Homo sapiens: one gene and its partner. The protein of the gene in region 1 interacts with the protein of each later gene in a biochemical or structural test. Each region holds a gene or a part of one and is shown on either strand. Other genes may lie near its edges.

Region 1 (3,500 bases):
TTGAAGCCAACCCGCTCCTCATAGGTCAGGGTGGGCACCTCCTCGGAAGCACAGGCTCGCTCGGGCACTTCAGCCCCACCAACCTGAAGAGGGGAGACACATGGGCATGAGACCAGTTGGCAAGGGCCAGGTAGGTGCCCAGAGACCCCCACCATCCTGGCCTTGAGAGTGGGTTCTGAAAGAAGGAAGAGCTGCATGGCCGTGGGCTTCCCAGGAAAGGTCTGCAGCACAGCAGCCCCATGCAGCCATGATGGGGTGTGAAGCGTTAACTACCTGCAGGCTGTGGGGTGAAGCTGGGGCTGGAGGCCGGGGCAGGTGTCCAGGGCTGAGGCCCAGGTGTCCTGGCCTTGCTCCTGGTAGCTGTCTGGAACCCCAGGGGGCCCCAAAGCTGTGAGGAGCTGGGTGGGAGCAGGGTAGGAGCTACTGGTGTCCAGCTGGCAGGTCAGGACACCCCTGGGCACCCTCACCTCGCTGTCGGAGCTGGGCTGGACGACCTCCCAGGTCTGGAAGTCCACGTCATAGCAGTGCAGCTCGTTGGGCAGCGTGTTGTCGGCCGCACCCCCAAACACATAGAGGTGGCGGTCAAAGGCCACCATGGTATGCCCGTAGCGCCGCTGCGGGGGTGGTGGGGAGCCCCGGAGCAGGTGTTCAGTTGGGATGCGTGTCCACCTGGGGGTACACAACAGTGAATCAATGCTGGGACAGGGGCTCCTGCTCACCCTCGGGGCCTCCCCACAGCAGGCCTTCACTGGGAGGTCCCCCTGCATCCCTTACGGTGACTAGCCCAGGGTCCAGAGGGAGGGCCTAGACACCTGCGCTGAGCACCTCTCACCCCATCCAGCACGGGCACCAGCCCTGCCTGGCTCCATGTGGCCCACCGCAGGGTCCTGCCAGAGCTCCCCCCTCTCCCCATGGAGCAGGCAGCAGTGATGGGCAGGAGGGTGGCATCTGACCCGCCCAGGCAGTCCTGCTCTCTGGGGAGTAAAGTTGTGCAGAGACCATTGCAGGTCACTGTGTTCACGCTGCCCAGTCAGAGCATCCCCACAGCTGAGTCCCCATCCTGGGAGCTGCCTGTACCCCACATCCTGATGCTGCCCCAGCACCTTCCACCTCCCAGGCTTCCCAGTACCTCCCAGCAAGTCCTCTCTTTTGCTAAGTTAGCTGAAGACTTCAGAACAGATCCTGGCCTGGCAGGGCTATGCCATCTGGCTCCATGCTGAGCCCCAGGCCCTTGACAATTTCCCTCATCCTGGGGCTCCCTGCCCTTCCTCCCACGCACCCGTGGCCTCCAGGGAAGCTCCCAAGTCCCTTCCCAAACCCCCTGTACCTGCAGCTCACACTCCTTGTGCCCTCTCCTGCAGCCCCATTGCAGGGATCAAGGGCTGGCCAGCAGCCAGGGGCAGCATGGGCCAGACCTCTCAGGACCTGCAGGCCCCTCTGGTCTTCTGCCATTATTTGAGATCTATGCAGGCCACGTCTGTTACTGGTGGCACTGACCAAGCTATTCACGAGGAAGGGGACGTCCTTCACGTTCAGAGGGAGGCCTAGCCAGGGGCCTCCTCGCCAGGCCTTATCTTGCTAAGCTGTAGCCATATCCTGGGGACCTGCCAGGGGCACCGCACATCCCTGCTCCGGGCTGTAACCTCCTGCTGTTTGCAGAGCTCACAAGGATGGTTACCATGGCCACCAGGTGCAAGAGGCGTTCTTCATATTCAGAAGGATTCGAGGGAACTGACCGTCCTCCCTCCACCCCACTGGCCAGAGTACTCACGTCTTGTCCTTGAATTCAAACTGGAAGAGGTTGTTGGTTATTTTGGCTCCGCTTTGCCCAGAGAATACAAACATCTTGTCCCGGCACACAGCCACGGGGAAGTTGCAGCAAGATGGGGGGATCTCGCCACTCTGGGCCACCTGCAGGGGGAGAGGACAGCTCAGCCCCGGCCTCACAGGGCCCGCTCACATTTCACCACACTCGAGACTGCTGAGATGGGACTGCTTTTATTCTTGAAACTTCCCCAGATGAGGATTCACAGATTCCTTTGTCTTGGAACAGCTCATAGCCCTGTCTCATCCACTTCACGGGGCCCAGTTGTGAACAGCTGGGGTTAAAATCGTCAGGGTTAAATCATCAGGGGCTAAACTCATGTTTTTCATGCCCAGAAGACTGAAAAACAATTTTTTTTAATGAATAAATAAATAAATTCCATGTTTCTAAAGGGGAAAGCAAGCCCAGGGGGAGCTCCAGGGAGCAGGACACTGGATAGCAGACGGCCCTCACTGCACTGAAATAAAGGGTGCGTTAAAGCAAAACCACATCCTCACACACGTGGCACTCTGCCCATCCAAAGCACCAAACCTCGAATCACTGTGCAGCCACAGTGAGGAACTGGTCGTGAAGGCCCGCAGGTCACCAGGGAGGAGAGCGAGGCTCAGGTCGAGGCTGGGCTTTGCAAGGGGAAGAAAGCAGCCTCGACCCCCAGCCTGGCTCCCCCTGCCTCCCACCTCCCTCCACCTGCACCCTGTCTCCCCATGCCCCTCACCTCCTCCACCTGCGCCCTGGCTCCCCGTGCCCCTCACCTCCTCTACCTGCGCCCTGGCTCCCCACGCCCCTCACCTCCTCCCAGCAGGTGAGCTCTCGGTCCTGGAGGCCAATTGTCCACATGTCATTCAACCTGTATTAGGACAGACCAGTGAGGACCCCTTGGGTCTGGTGGTCAGGGTGGGCCTAGTCCTGGCTGGAAGGGATGGCTGCAGGGAGGAGCCCCACCCCCACACAGGGTAGGAGACTTGTGCGGCCATGAGGCGGGAACTTCTGTGTGGGGTGGCAGCCACTGCCTCAAATCCCTGCTGTGCCAGGCCCCCTGCCCGGCCCAGACAGAACAAGTACTCTCATGCATGACATCAGGGCAGTGTGGCAGTGCCAGCTCCTCACTCAGTGTCCCTCCTGGGTGGGGAGAGGACACAGATATCCCAGATGCCACCATCACTGCATCGTTAGGAGTTTCTATGATGCTGAAGTTTTGGGAAACCAGCATATGCTACTTTTGTGATCAGAAAAAGAGAGCAAAGCCAACTTTCTAAAATAAGGAGGAAAAGGCCTTTGGCCTGGGCAAGAACCAGGGCTGGGCCTGAGCCTGGGCACCGCCCACCCGCCCACCAACTCAGCTCCGCAGGGCAACTCCTGGCTGAGGATCCTCATCCAAGCTACTCTGGTAGCCACGGGGCTCCACCCAGTGGCCCTCACCTCCATCTGTCCATCCTCCTCTTTCCCCATCCCCCTCCCAAGAAACCCCCAGACAGAGTGGCACTCAAAATCCACCAGGCACTCAAAATCCTCCCAGCCTAAGCCCTCAAATGCCAGGACGGCCTGCTCCGGGTCTCAGTGCTGTCGGAGGTGGGGTGCACAGGCCGGACCACCACCCACCTGGCGTTGCCGTCATAGCCAGCAAAGATCCACAGCTTGTCACTGTACACCGTGGCCCCATGGGCTGACCTAGCGA
Region 2 (3,730 bases), on another chromosome or scaffold:
AGCAGCCCAGTTAATAAGAGGGGATGTGAAAGATGAACCTCCATGCCAGCCCTGCTCAGACCACTGCCCTCGTGTTAACCTGTACAAGTAGAGTTTAGTGGCCAAAAAGCTTATTTGACATGGCTTTTGGCTATACTTGCTAAACAAGACCAGTGGTACTGTGTCCTCAACACCAGGCCTGGCACATAATTGGTGTTGAATAAATGATGGTTGAATAAATCACTTTAACAGTGGACTGTCTCTGGCTAGTGAGACCAGGGGTAATGCTTTTATTTTCTTTTGCATTTCTTCATTTTCAAACCTCTTTATAATTGAGAGTATTACTTTATAAAGGAGGAAAACATATGAATATTTTCCCCTAAGTTAAAAAAGCCCTCTGTCTCATTCCACATGTCTTGCTGCCGCAGGTCTGACCTACGAGAAACATGGCAACCAGCGCCGTCCCCAGTGACAACCTCCCCACATACAAGCTGGTGGTGGTGGGGGATGGGGGTGTGGGCAAAAGTGCCCTCACCATCCAGTTTTTCCAGAAGATCTTTGTGCCTGACTATGACCCCACCATTGAAGACTCCTACCTGAAACATACGGAGATTGACAATCAATGGGCCATCTTGGACGGTGAGACCTGGGTGGCAGCCCTGCATTGGGTGGGATAGTAGATGGGGAGGATCAGGGAAATTTGACAGGTTTCAGTGGGGCAAGATGGTTTCCTTAATGTTGCTGTTATGGGATGGTTGATATAAAGCCGTGTGTCGTTTTCAGGGTGAATTCTCAACAGGGAAGGCCTGCGTAGAGGGCTTGCAAGATTTCGTGGAAACCAAAATGTGCATTCAGCAAAGAGGGGAGGCTAGAATCATGCCAACTCAGTGATGTCATGTGTGTTTTTTCTTGCTGATCAGAATCTCTGATTAACAGTTATGGATGTCTTTAGCTAATAAAAAAGGGAAAAGCAAGTTGTTTCTTAATGAGCATAGTTTACTTGGTACTTGTCCTTTGAGGGGAATCTCTTGCATCTGACATTGTGTTTCTAGCTGAGTGTGAATTAGTCTGGATTACTAGTTCTAAGTGTGGCAGCCAGGCCAGCAGTAGCCGCAGCATCAGGAAACTAATTAGAAATGCACATCCTCAGGCCCATACTGATTTGGAAATTCTGAGGGTGGGCCCAACACCCTGTGTTTTAACACACCCTCGAGGAGATGCTTGAAATCAGGGAGTATTAAATCTTCAACTTCGTTATTTTTCAAAGTTGTTTTGACTGGTCTAGGTCCTAAGGTATTTCTATGTGAGTTTTAGCATCAGTTAAATTCTAAAATTCTAGATTTTGATTGGGATTGTGTTGAAACTGTAGATCTGTTTGAGGAGAGTTGATATTTTAACAATGTTGAGGCTTCCAACCCATGAACACAGTATCTCTTTCCATTTATTTATTTATTTATTTATTTATTTGTTTATTTGGGTCTTCTTTCTCTTGTCAGTTTTATTTGTAGGTTTTTTTGTTTGTTTGTTTGTTTTTGGGGGGACGGAGTCTCGCTCTGTCACCAGGTTGGTGGAGTGCAGTGGTGCAGTCTCAGCTCACCGCAACCTCCGCCTCTCGGGTTCAAGCAAATCTCTTGCCTCAGCCTCCCAAGTAGCTGGGATTACAGGCACGCACCACCACACCTAGCTAAATTTTTTTTGTATTTTTAGTAGAGACGGGGTTTCACCATGTTGGCCAGGATGGTCTCGATCTCCGGACCTCGTGATCCGCCTGCCTCAGCCTCAGCCTCTCAAACTGCTGGGATTACAGGCATGAACCACCACGCCTGGCTTATTTGTAGTTTTCAGTGCATAGGTCTTTTACATGTTTTGTCAGTTTTATACCTGTATCTGTATTGATGCTACCGTAAATTATTATTTTTGGTTTTTTATTTCAATTTTCAGTTGTTTGTTGCTAGTATATATAAAAACAATAGGTTTCTGTATATTAATCTTGTAACCTACAACTTTGCTAAACTCAGTTACTAGTTCTAGTATCTTTTTTGTAGATTCTGCTGGATTTTTCTGAATAGACCATAGTGACTGCAAGTAAAGACAGTTTTACTTCTTCTTTTCCAATCTGGATGGCTCTTATTTCTTTTTCTTGCCTTATCTCATTGATTAAAATCTCTGGCATCCTGTTGAAAAGAAGTAACAAGAACAGACATCCTTGTCTTGTTCTTGATCTTAAGGGGTAAGTGTTTGGTCTTTAGCATTAAGTATGATGTTAGTTGCAGGCCTTTTATGGATGGCCTTTATCAGGTCATGGAAGTTCCTTTCTATTTCTAGTTTGCTGAGAGTTTTTATCAGGCATGGATGTTGGATTTTGTCCAGTGCTTTTTCTGTGTCTACTGAGATAACCAAATGGTTTTCCTTTTTTAGTTTGTTAATGTGGTAAATTACATTGATTGTTTTGTTTTGTTTTTGTGACAGAGTCTTGCACTGTCACCCAGGCTGGAGCACAGTGGCATGATCTTAGCTCACTGCAACCACAAAATACTGGGCTCAAGAGATCTTCTTGCCTCAGCTTCCCCAGTAGCTAGGACTGTAGGCACACACCACTGTGCCCGGCTAATATTTTATTTTTTTGTGAAGATTGGGGGGAATCTCCCATTGTCGCCCAGGCTGGTCTTGAACTCTTGGCTTCAAGCAATCCTTCCATTTCAGCCTCCCAAAGTGCTGGGATTACAGGTGTGAGCCACCATCCCTGGTCCTTGATTTTTTTAATATTAAACCAAAATTGCATCCCTGGAATAAACCCCACTTGGTCATGATGTATTATCCTTTAATATTGTTGGCTTTGATTTGCTAAACTTTTGTTTACAATTCTTATGTCTGTGTTCTTGTGAAATATTGGTCTATAGTTTTCTTGTAATGTCTGTGTCTAATTTTGGTATCAGAGTAATGTTGGCCTCATAGAACGAGTTTTATTCAATTTTCTGGAAGAGTTTGAGTTAAATTGGTATTTCTTCCCTAACTGTTTAGTAGAATTCACAAACAAGGCCATCTGGCCCTGGAGTTTTCTTTGTGGGAAGATGTTTTTGTTTTTGTTTTGAGACAGGGTCTCGCTCTGTTACCCAGGCTGGAGTGCAGTGGCATGATCAAGGCTCACCACAGCCTAGACCTTCTGGGCTGAAGCAGTCCTCCCACATATTTTGTCTGTCTGTTGGTTGTTTCAGCTGAGAACGTAAATCTGGTCCCTGTCACTCCATCTTGGCCAGAAGCAGAACCAAATCATGACTTCAAAAAAATACAACTTTGTGGCTGGGCGCTGTGGCTTACAAGGCCTGTAAATCCCAACACTTTGGGAGGCTGAGGTGGGCAGATTGCTTGAGCTCAGGAGTTTGAGACTTGCCTGGGCAACGTGGTGAAACCCCATCTCAACTAAAAATATAAAAATTAGCCTCGGGTGGCTGAGGTGGGAGAATCACTTGAGCTCAGGAGGCAAAGATTGCAGTGAGCCGAGACTGCGCCACCTCACTCCAGCCTGGGCAACAGAGTGAGACTCCCTCTCAAAAAAACAAAACAAAACAAAAAAACTTTGTAAATATGTTTTAAAAGCACTGAATTATATACTTTTAAAGTATTAATATTATGGCATGTAGATTGTATCTCAATTTTAAAAAGCACCGTCCTCCAAGGGTTTGTCTGCAGCCCTGGGACTTTGAACAATTTGAACAGGTACCAAGCACCTTCCCATCTTGGGACTTTGCAT

Evidence for each region.
Region 2: of the proteins of LZTR1 (region 1) and MRAS, one has a biochemical effect on the other in vitro, tested with the Homo sapiens proteins (one study listed by BioGRID).

What each region holds. Positions count from the first base shown.
Region 1 is NC_000022.11:20,988,797-20,992,296, reverse strand, and holds part of LZTR1 (leucine-zipper-like transcriptional regulator 1), read right to left. Parts: coding exon 3,425-3,500; intron 2,673-3,424; coding exon 2,615-2,672; intron 1,912-2,614; coding exon 1,772-1,911; intron 670-1,771; coding exon 468-669; intron 84-467; coding exon 1-83. UniProt on the Homo sapiens protein: Substrate-specific adapter of a BCR (BTB-CUL3-RBX1) E3 ubiquitin-protein ligase complex that mediates ubiquitination of Ras (K-Ras/KRAS, N-Ras/NRAS and H-Ras/HRAS).
Region 2 is NC_000003.12:138,372,459-138,376,188, forward strand, and holds part of MRAS (ras-related protein M-Ras isoform 1 precursor), read left to right. Parts: intron 1-407; 5' UTR 408-425; coding exon 426-618; intron 619-3,730. UniProt on the Homo sapiens protein: Signal transducer in the Ras-MAPK signaling pathway that regulates cell proliferation and survival. Core component of the SHOC2-MRAS-PP1c (SMP) holophosphatase complex that regulates the MAPK pathway activation.